2 linked regions of the Homo sapiens genome follow. The protein of the gene in region 2 purifies or fractionates together with the protein of the main gene of each other region. This does not show direct contact. Each region holds a gene or a part of one and is shown on either strand. Other genes may lie near its edges.

What was found. The genes of interacting proteins can lie anywhere in the genome.
Region 1: the proteins of ATP2B2 (region 2) and SRPRB purify together in Homo sapiens (affinity purification with mass spectrometry; 3 studies listed by BioGRID and IntAct, with this or other methods). This does not show direct contact.

The regions. Positions count from the first base shown.
Region 1 is NC_000003.12:133,808,793-133,812,540, reverse strand, and holds part of SRPRB (signal recognition particle receptor subunit beta), read right to left. Parts: intron 1,425-3,748; coding exon 1,342-1,424; intron 1-1,341. UniProt on the Homo sapiens protein: Component of the signal recognition particle (SRP) complex receptor (SR). Ensures, in conjunction with the SRP complex, the correct targeting of the nascent secretory proteins to the endoplasmic reticulum membrane system.
Region 2 is NC_000003.12:10,503,730-10,507,477, forward strand, and holds the start of ATP2B2 (plasma membrane calcium-transporting ATPase 2), read right to left. Parts: upstream 1,858-3,748; 5' UTR 1,736-1,857; intron 1-1,735. UniProt on the Homo sapiens protein: ATP-driven Ca(2+) ion pump involved in the maintenance of basal intracellular Ca(2+) levels in specialized cells of cerebellar circuit and vestibular and cochlear systems.

The sequences.
Region 1 (3,748 bases), about 120 Mb from region 2:
TCATGATTATAATTTATTTGAACTAAGTTTTATCTTCATATTTTGCATGTTTTATTTACCCAAAATACATGAATCACAGAGTAGTTATACTGCAAATCATAAAATATTTAGAACTGGCAATAGAAAAAGAAAAAACATTTAATTGGAAATAAAAACCCAATTATGGCAAAATTTACCAGCTCTAGATTTGTCTCAATTGTCCAAGGAATTTTCTTATCTGTGACAAATTGTTCATCACCACCATCTTGTGGGCAAAGATGCAATAATGAAATTTCAGTCTAGACATCTTCAATAAAAGGCAAAGAATCTACTACTTCATTCCATCAAAACTAAAATGCTGCCAATTAAAGACATTATTTTAGGGACCGCTAAGAGAAAATACTGCCAATTAAACTATGACACCATCAACTATAAGATATATTCTAAATTCAGAGATATTAAAATGTGTCTTCAAATCAGTGAAATGTGGCATACTGATTTTCCTCTTCAGTTCTTATTAATGTTAGAGACCAAAAAAGAAGCATCTGAAACTGCAGCATAAGACTTTTTAGGGAAGAACTTAAGAGTCAGTAACACCAGAGCACACACTAAAAGAAATATGGAAATATTGTTCTGTACTTCTTGAAACATCAATTTTACGTAATTTGAGAATATATATGGGCCAGGTGCAGTGGCTCACGCCTGTAATTCCAGCACTTTGGGAGGCTGAGGCCAGCGGATCATGAGGTCAGGAGTTCGAGACAAGCCTGGCCAACATGGTGAAACCCCATCTCTACTAAAATTATGAAAAATTAGCAGGGTGTGGTGGTGCGTGCCTGTAATCCCAGCTACTCAGGAGGCTGAGGCAGGAGAATCACTTGAACCCAGGAGGTGGAGGTTGCAGTGAGCCGAGATCACACCACTGCACTCCAGCCAGGACAACAGAGTGAGACTCCATCTCAAAAAAAAAAAACAAAAAAACACTATATATATAAATGATGTTGGCATTTAAAAACTGCTAGGATTCATCCCAGCTTTAAAATTCTTTTTTCAGATTTTAATAGTCATATACATTATTAAATTCACCTTCAGAATAAATGCAAACATTTAGTAACAATGACAAGAAGGGTTAACATTTCCTAAACACTAAAAAACACTTTTTAAGCATTTTAATCCCATAAAATCCTCATCATCCAGGTGAAGGTGGACTTGCAACCCAGAACTGGCTGACCCCAAGGTCACCTCAAGGTCTACCACAGGATACCATGCTGCCTCCCAAACACCACCAGAGCAAATCACATGAGTGGCTTTGATATACAGATACAGACCTAGACAAGCCCACTTCACTTCTTTCCTTCTTACCTGGCTGAAGACTTAAACCGCTCTAAGAACTGAAGCCTCAAACTCTCATGGCCGGGAAGGTCAATCAAGGTCAGACTATTGCCCTGGGGATGGCAGCAATAACATTAACGTTTCAATACAGTTCCACGTTCACAATATAAACCTTTAGTATCATATATTGGCTACCAAACTGGTACCTAATTAACCAAACAAATGTTCACAAAGCATCTTCTACTCATAAAACACTAGTCAACGTTCTGGGGATGTAACAGTGGCCAAAGACACGGTTCCTGATCTGGCAAAATTTATGAGAAAGGTGAACATAATGTAAAATTACACATAAATATAAAATGAGAACACTGATAAATGTTTTGAGGGTACAGGAAAAACCTGTCTGGGGGAGTCAGGGAAGCATGATCTACCTGAGGCTTGGGAGATAAACCAGTGTGAGTATAGCAAAGTAGGAGTACTGTATGAGTATAAGCAAAAATGTGAAAACAGTAACAAGTACTCATAAACTAATAATGTAATATAAGAACTTACAATTTTTCATAGAGCATATTACTCTTACTGGGATCTCCAATCTTTATAACAAAGTACACTTTTATCATTTCCACCCTTAATCTAATTATTTAAATATTTATCTTCCAGACATATAATTTACTTGTTCCAACTCCGTCAGCATTTGTGTCAATTCCTGAGCCCCTACTGAGCAAATCTACGATGCACCCTAATAAGTTCTATTCACCATGCCAGGCTGCCATTCCTGAATATAAGGTCAAGGCCTGGAATGGTGAATAAAGTTTATATTCAGTGTAAACGTGGCTGTGCTCAACAATAAGACTCTTAGATGTGGCCTGGTACATGCAGCAGACCATCATTTCTTACATGTTCTACATTATCCACAGCCAACCATACCCACAGTTCAGAAGCAGGCAATCAGTATCCTGCACAGATTTAACACAATTCCAGCTGGGTTTATTATGACCTTACCTTTCACATAGCCTGTGCATTTCTTTATAGACAAATATGTTTTTTATTAGTCCCTCTCTTTTTTTTTTAAGTACTGTTAAGAGTCTGGAGATCCCAGGTTGGGACTTAACTGCTCCATTTCAAAAGCAGCACTATACCACACACCCTAAGCAATTTGGAAGATACATTACTAGGTATATTACTATCTAAAGAGATTAGATCGAAAACGTAAGGGGGTAGGAGAAAGAGTGAAGAGGGAAGGGAAAAATGCTCTATATATTCAGTAGAAATATTGATAGAATAGAAATATAGTAGAAATATAGAATAACAGAAGCCACATATGTAATTTTAAATATTCCAGTAACCATAATAAAAAAGTAAAAAGAAATTGGTAAAATTAATTTTAAGTTATTTAATCTAATATATCCAAAATATTATCTTTTAAAATGTAATAAAAAAAGAAATTATTAATGATACTTTACGTTCTTTTTTTCCATACTAAGTCTTCAAGATCTGGTGTGTACTTCACACTTACAGCATGCCTCAATTTGGACTAGTCCTAGTTTAGGTGCTCAACAGTCACATGTGGCCAGTGGCTACATATTAGAAGGTACAGATTTAAAGCATATCCTGGAGTATCCTAAGTTAAAAATCTAGTGCAGGTACTAGATGATCTTGCAAACCTGGAATTTCAAAATCTGAATCCTTGGGAGTTTAAAAAGGTCTGGGCCACAAAGAGTGTCATCATTGAAAAAAAAAACAAAGATATCGCTAAGATATTTAAAAACATGTCCCTTTATTTTTCTTTACAATCTTTAATTCTGGAGGCATGAGAAAGGGGAAAGAAGACAAAGAGAAGAAGAAAAGGTCTCAAACCACAATTCTAATTCATCCATCTATCCATCCACATCCTCCAACGAGCCCTCACTCCACTCACTCACCGAAACTTATTACATGGCTGGGTGCAGTGGCTCACGCCTGTAATCCCAGCAATTTGGGAAGCTGAGGTGGGCGGATCACTTGAGGTCAGGAGTTCAAGACCAGCCTGGCCAACATGGTGAAACCCCATCTCTACTAAAAATACAAAAATTAGCCAGGCATGGTGGTGGGCGCCTGTAATCCCAGCTACTCAGGAGGCTGAGGCAGGAGAATCGCTTCAACTCGGGAGGCAGAGGTTGCAGTGAGCCAAGATCATGCCACTGCACTCCAGCCTGGGCAACAGAGTGAGACTCCTGTCTCAAAAACAAACAAACAAACTTATGCATTACAATCGGTTTGGTAGTCACTGTCTACATTCTGAAGTTACAGAGGTATGTAAAATGTCTTTCCCATGATTCCTTATATTTTTTTTTTTTTTTTGAGACTTAGTCTCGCTCTATTGCCCAGGCTGGAGTGCAGTGGCGCAATCTTGGCTCACTGCCACCTCCACCTCCCGGGTTAAAATGATTCTCATGCC
Region 2 (3,748 bases):
GATGGCATTCAGAGCCCCACATGTGTGTGCCTGTTGTTTTCACACCTGAGCCAGCCCTCAGGTGGGTACACACATTTCTGGCTGTTGCAGGGCACTGTGTGCAGCCTACTGCTTTCCCGTGTTAGTGCTACATGCATGTGTGGGCAAGCTGCATGCACAGGTGTGTATGTGTGTACTGCATTCGTGTGTGTGCTGTGTTTTGCACGTGAGCATGTGGTGTTCAGGAACGTGGGTTGTATTTACAGGTGCTGGGGTGTGGGCATGGGCATTCCATATGTGTATATATGATTTGGACATATATGACGCACTACTTATGGGTACTATATTTGTATCTGTGCATATGTGTGAATTTGTGGGCATGCATATGCCCTGATGTGAATGGGACTAGGGTGTGAAGGTGGCTAAATAATGGTGGCCATCAGCATCTTTCCTGGACCCCCAACCCCCCACAGGACTCCCCAGAGCTGCAGCCCCTTCTTTGCCACTGCTCCTTCAACGAAGTTAACAGGCGGAGGCCCCCAAGGCCTGCGCTCCAAGCCCCCTCCTACTGCACACGTCAAAGGAGAATTTCTCCGGATGGCGCCCGCTGATCCTGGAAATACCCCAAACGTCAGCTCTGCCTCCTCCCAGCGATTCGGAGAGCAATGCAGGAGAGGAGGGAGCCCCTTCCACGCTGGGCTCAGGGCATGCAGCGTCGCACTAAGACCCTCTGCCGGCTGGTCGGGCTTGCCTGCTCACTTACCCTTCTGAAGGTCGAGCCAGGCTGGGCCTCTGCATGGAGGGCCCGAGACCCCCAGGGCCCTTGCCTGATTGGGGCAGGCCAGTCCAGAGCACCCCCCCAACCCCCAACCCCCAACCTGGGTGAGCAGAGGACAGCCGTGGTGTGGAATAGCTACTTGGCTAGAAAGGGGTTGCTGCTGTCCGCAACCCACCCTCAGGGAGTCCTGAGGCCCCCTGCTGCATTTTCCCATCCTGACCCTGCAGGGGGCAGGGAGGAGCCTCAGGTGCCCTATCCCTCAGCTGGAGACCACTGAGGCTGGCCTAGGAAGTGGGCTTCTGGGCAGAGGGTGCCGACTCCACCACCCAGCATGACTGCTGCAAAATGGCCTGGCCACCCGTTCCTGCCACCCTCCTGGCCATGGAGGGGACCCAGGAACACGTCCCTGCCACCACATGACCCGGCTGGCCTGACCCAATGAGTCCCAGCACACAGCTGCCCACCCCACCAAAGGGACGCTTCACAGGGGCCTCCTCCTGCCTCTTTCCTGGGACTCTGACCAGGGTGGGCAACGGGCACCCTCCAGTCCTCTTGGTCTCCCTGGGACCGGCTCAGAGAGAAGAGAACCTTGTCCCCTGCCACCAGCTTGCTGGCCCTTGCATAACATCCTTAGGGGGCATTTGCAGTCCAGAGGCTGCCGGAATCTACCTGAGACCCTGGGCATCCGCTTGTCCGAGGCCCCCCTGTCCTAGTCCCCAGCATCCAGCCGTCCCCCACAACACGCGGACCCTCACACTAGTGTCTCCCTCAGCGGCGGCTCCCAGTGCAGCCTCGGCTGCTGCCAGATAAACAAGCCCTGCTCCCACCCCCCCTCCACGCTGCCACCGCCACCACCATCAGCACTGAGAAAAATCAAATGAAATGAAACAAAATAAAATGGGTGAGGGAGGAAGGGGAGAGTGGAGTGGGGCGCTTTTTATTTTTTATTTTCTCATGCTGGGGGATGCCGGTACTTACTTGGCTATGAAAATCACCACCAATCCTGCACGGTTTCCCGGCGGGCAGCCCCGTAATCGCGGTGCGGCAGCTGGTGCCGCGGCTGAGCCCAGCCAGCGTGCCCGGGCCCCTCTGCAGACTGTACCATCCTGCCCGAGCGGGTGGGGGGCGGGGGGCGGAGGCGCCGGCGCCGGTTCTAGGAGAGCATCTCGCCGGCAAAATGCAATCTCGGGGGAGGCAGAGGCCGCCCCTGCCGCTGCCGGAGGCTGGGGGATGGGGGCGGGAGGAGGGAGGGAGGGAGGGACACAGGGAGGGCCGGTTCTGGAGGGGGCACGGGGGAGGAGAGTGGGGGGCGGGGGGGGTGTGTGGACCGAACCACCACGCTGTTGTTTGCGGTTTTAATTCCTCCCGTGGGATCATGAGGAACCGAAGCTGGCAGAGTCCCAGGAATATGCCCGCTCCCCAGAAGCAGGAGGGAATGTCAAGGGCACGGAGAGGGTAGGGCTGGGCTGTGCTGGAGGGAAGGGGGTCCTGAGAGTGGTGGTGGGGAGAACGGGAGCAGAGAGGGGAGGATTTTGCTCAAATGGCCCCAAGTCGTCCCTTGCTTTCTGGGGGACTTATTTGGTCAGGGGCTCTGGCCCCCCTCTTTGCAGTCAAGGCACCCCCAGACCTGGGGGGCAAAGGGGCAAAGGTCGCAAATGGGGAGAAGTCGACTCAACACATTTTAAACACATCTGTGTTTCCAGGGCCAGTGGAGCTGAGCCCGCAGCAGCTCTCTGCTGCCCTGAAGCGCTACCCCTGCGACCCGCCCTGCCTGTGTGCGACCCCACCTGCCCTCGGGGGGGTGTGGTGGTGGGGGCTGGCTTGGCAGAAGGGCCTGCCTCAAGAAGGTGCCCACCAGCAGGGGTGTCTGCATGTCTGTACACCCACCTAATCTTCAGGACATCTATGATGAGTTGCAGGCCGACTGTGGGCTGACTGACACTTCCACGGGAACCCAGGGACCCCGGGTGAGGAGTCGGTAGGGTTGGAAGCCCCTAGCCAGCTGCTCACCTCTTCCTGCCTAATCTCTGCCAGACTTGCTGCTCTTTCAACTCCAGATGGGTGGGAGGAGAGCCCTAAGAGCAAGGTTAGGAGGTCACCGGGGGCGAGGGGCTTCTCTAGAATTCTGAAGCCTTGGCCTCCACTGCCCTGCCCCCTCCAGGAGGGGTACCCTGCTTGGAGGGAGGGCACTGAAGGTGGAAGGACCTTCAGGACCAGTGTCTCAGGGCACCTGTCAGGGTGGAGGGGTGCATGGGGGACAGGGGCAGGGCTGGAGGCGGCCCCGGGAGGCAGTTCCAGGCAGAAGCTGCCTCTTTCCCCTGCCCCCACCTCCTGCCCACCTCTGAGCTGCCCGCCCGAGCGTCCCGAGCTGCCGCTCCATCCCTGGGCTGGCACAGAATACCAATTTGTCTCGTTAAGCTGAAAGTCTGCACTGCACCAAAATCAGAACCCGGCCGTGCAGAGGGGCCACGGGAGGGAGACAGTTGGGAGCGCCTGAGGTGGGTCTCCCACCAGTAGGCCATGCTGAGACCTCCTTGCTCCTCAGCCCCCAGCCCCATGGAAGGGTGCCCACCTGCCCCTTAGCCCGCAGGGTGGCCTCAACGCAGGGAGGATGCTGCGAAGCTACGATGTCAAGGGCCGGGTGGTCATTCAAGGCCTTGGCCTCCACTGGGGCAAGGGTGTGAGTCAGAGGCCAGGCAAGGCTCCCTGCTGGGGTTCTGACAGAGCAGCCCAGGACACCCCTCAGGGAGGCTCTCGACCCCACACCAATAGCCCAAGACTGGGGGCTTCCAAAGCAGCCTCATCTCTGCTTCATCTTGCGGGTGCAGATGGGAACTCTACCCCTCTTAGGGGTGTAGTTGGGGGGATTCCACTGGCCACCCCTCTAGGTGGTCTTCTAAGTCAGCAGTCCCTAGTCAGCTCCACCCCAGGGACCAGGGCCAAGCATCTGCCCTTCCCCAAGGCCCACAGGCTCTCCGTTCCCCAAAACAG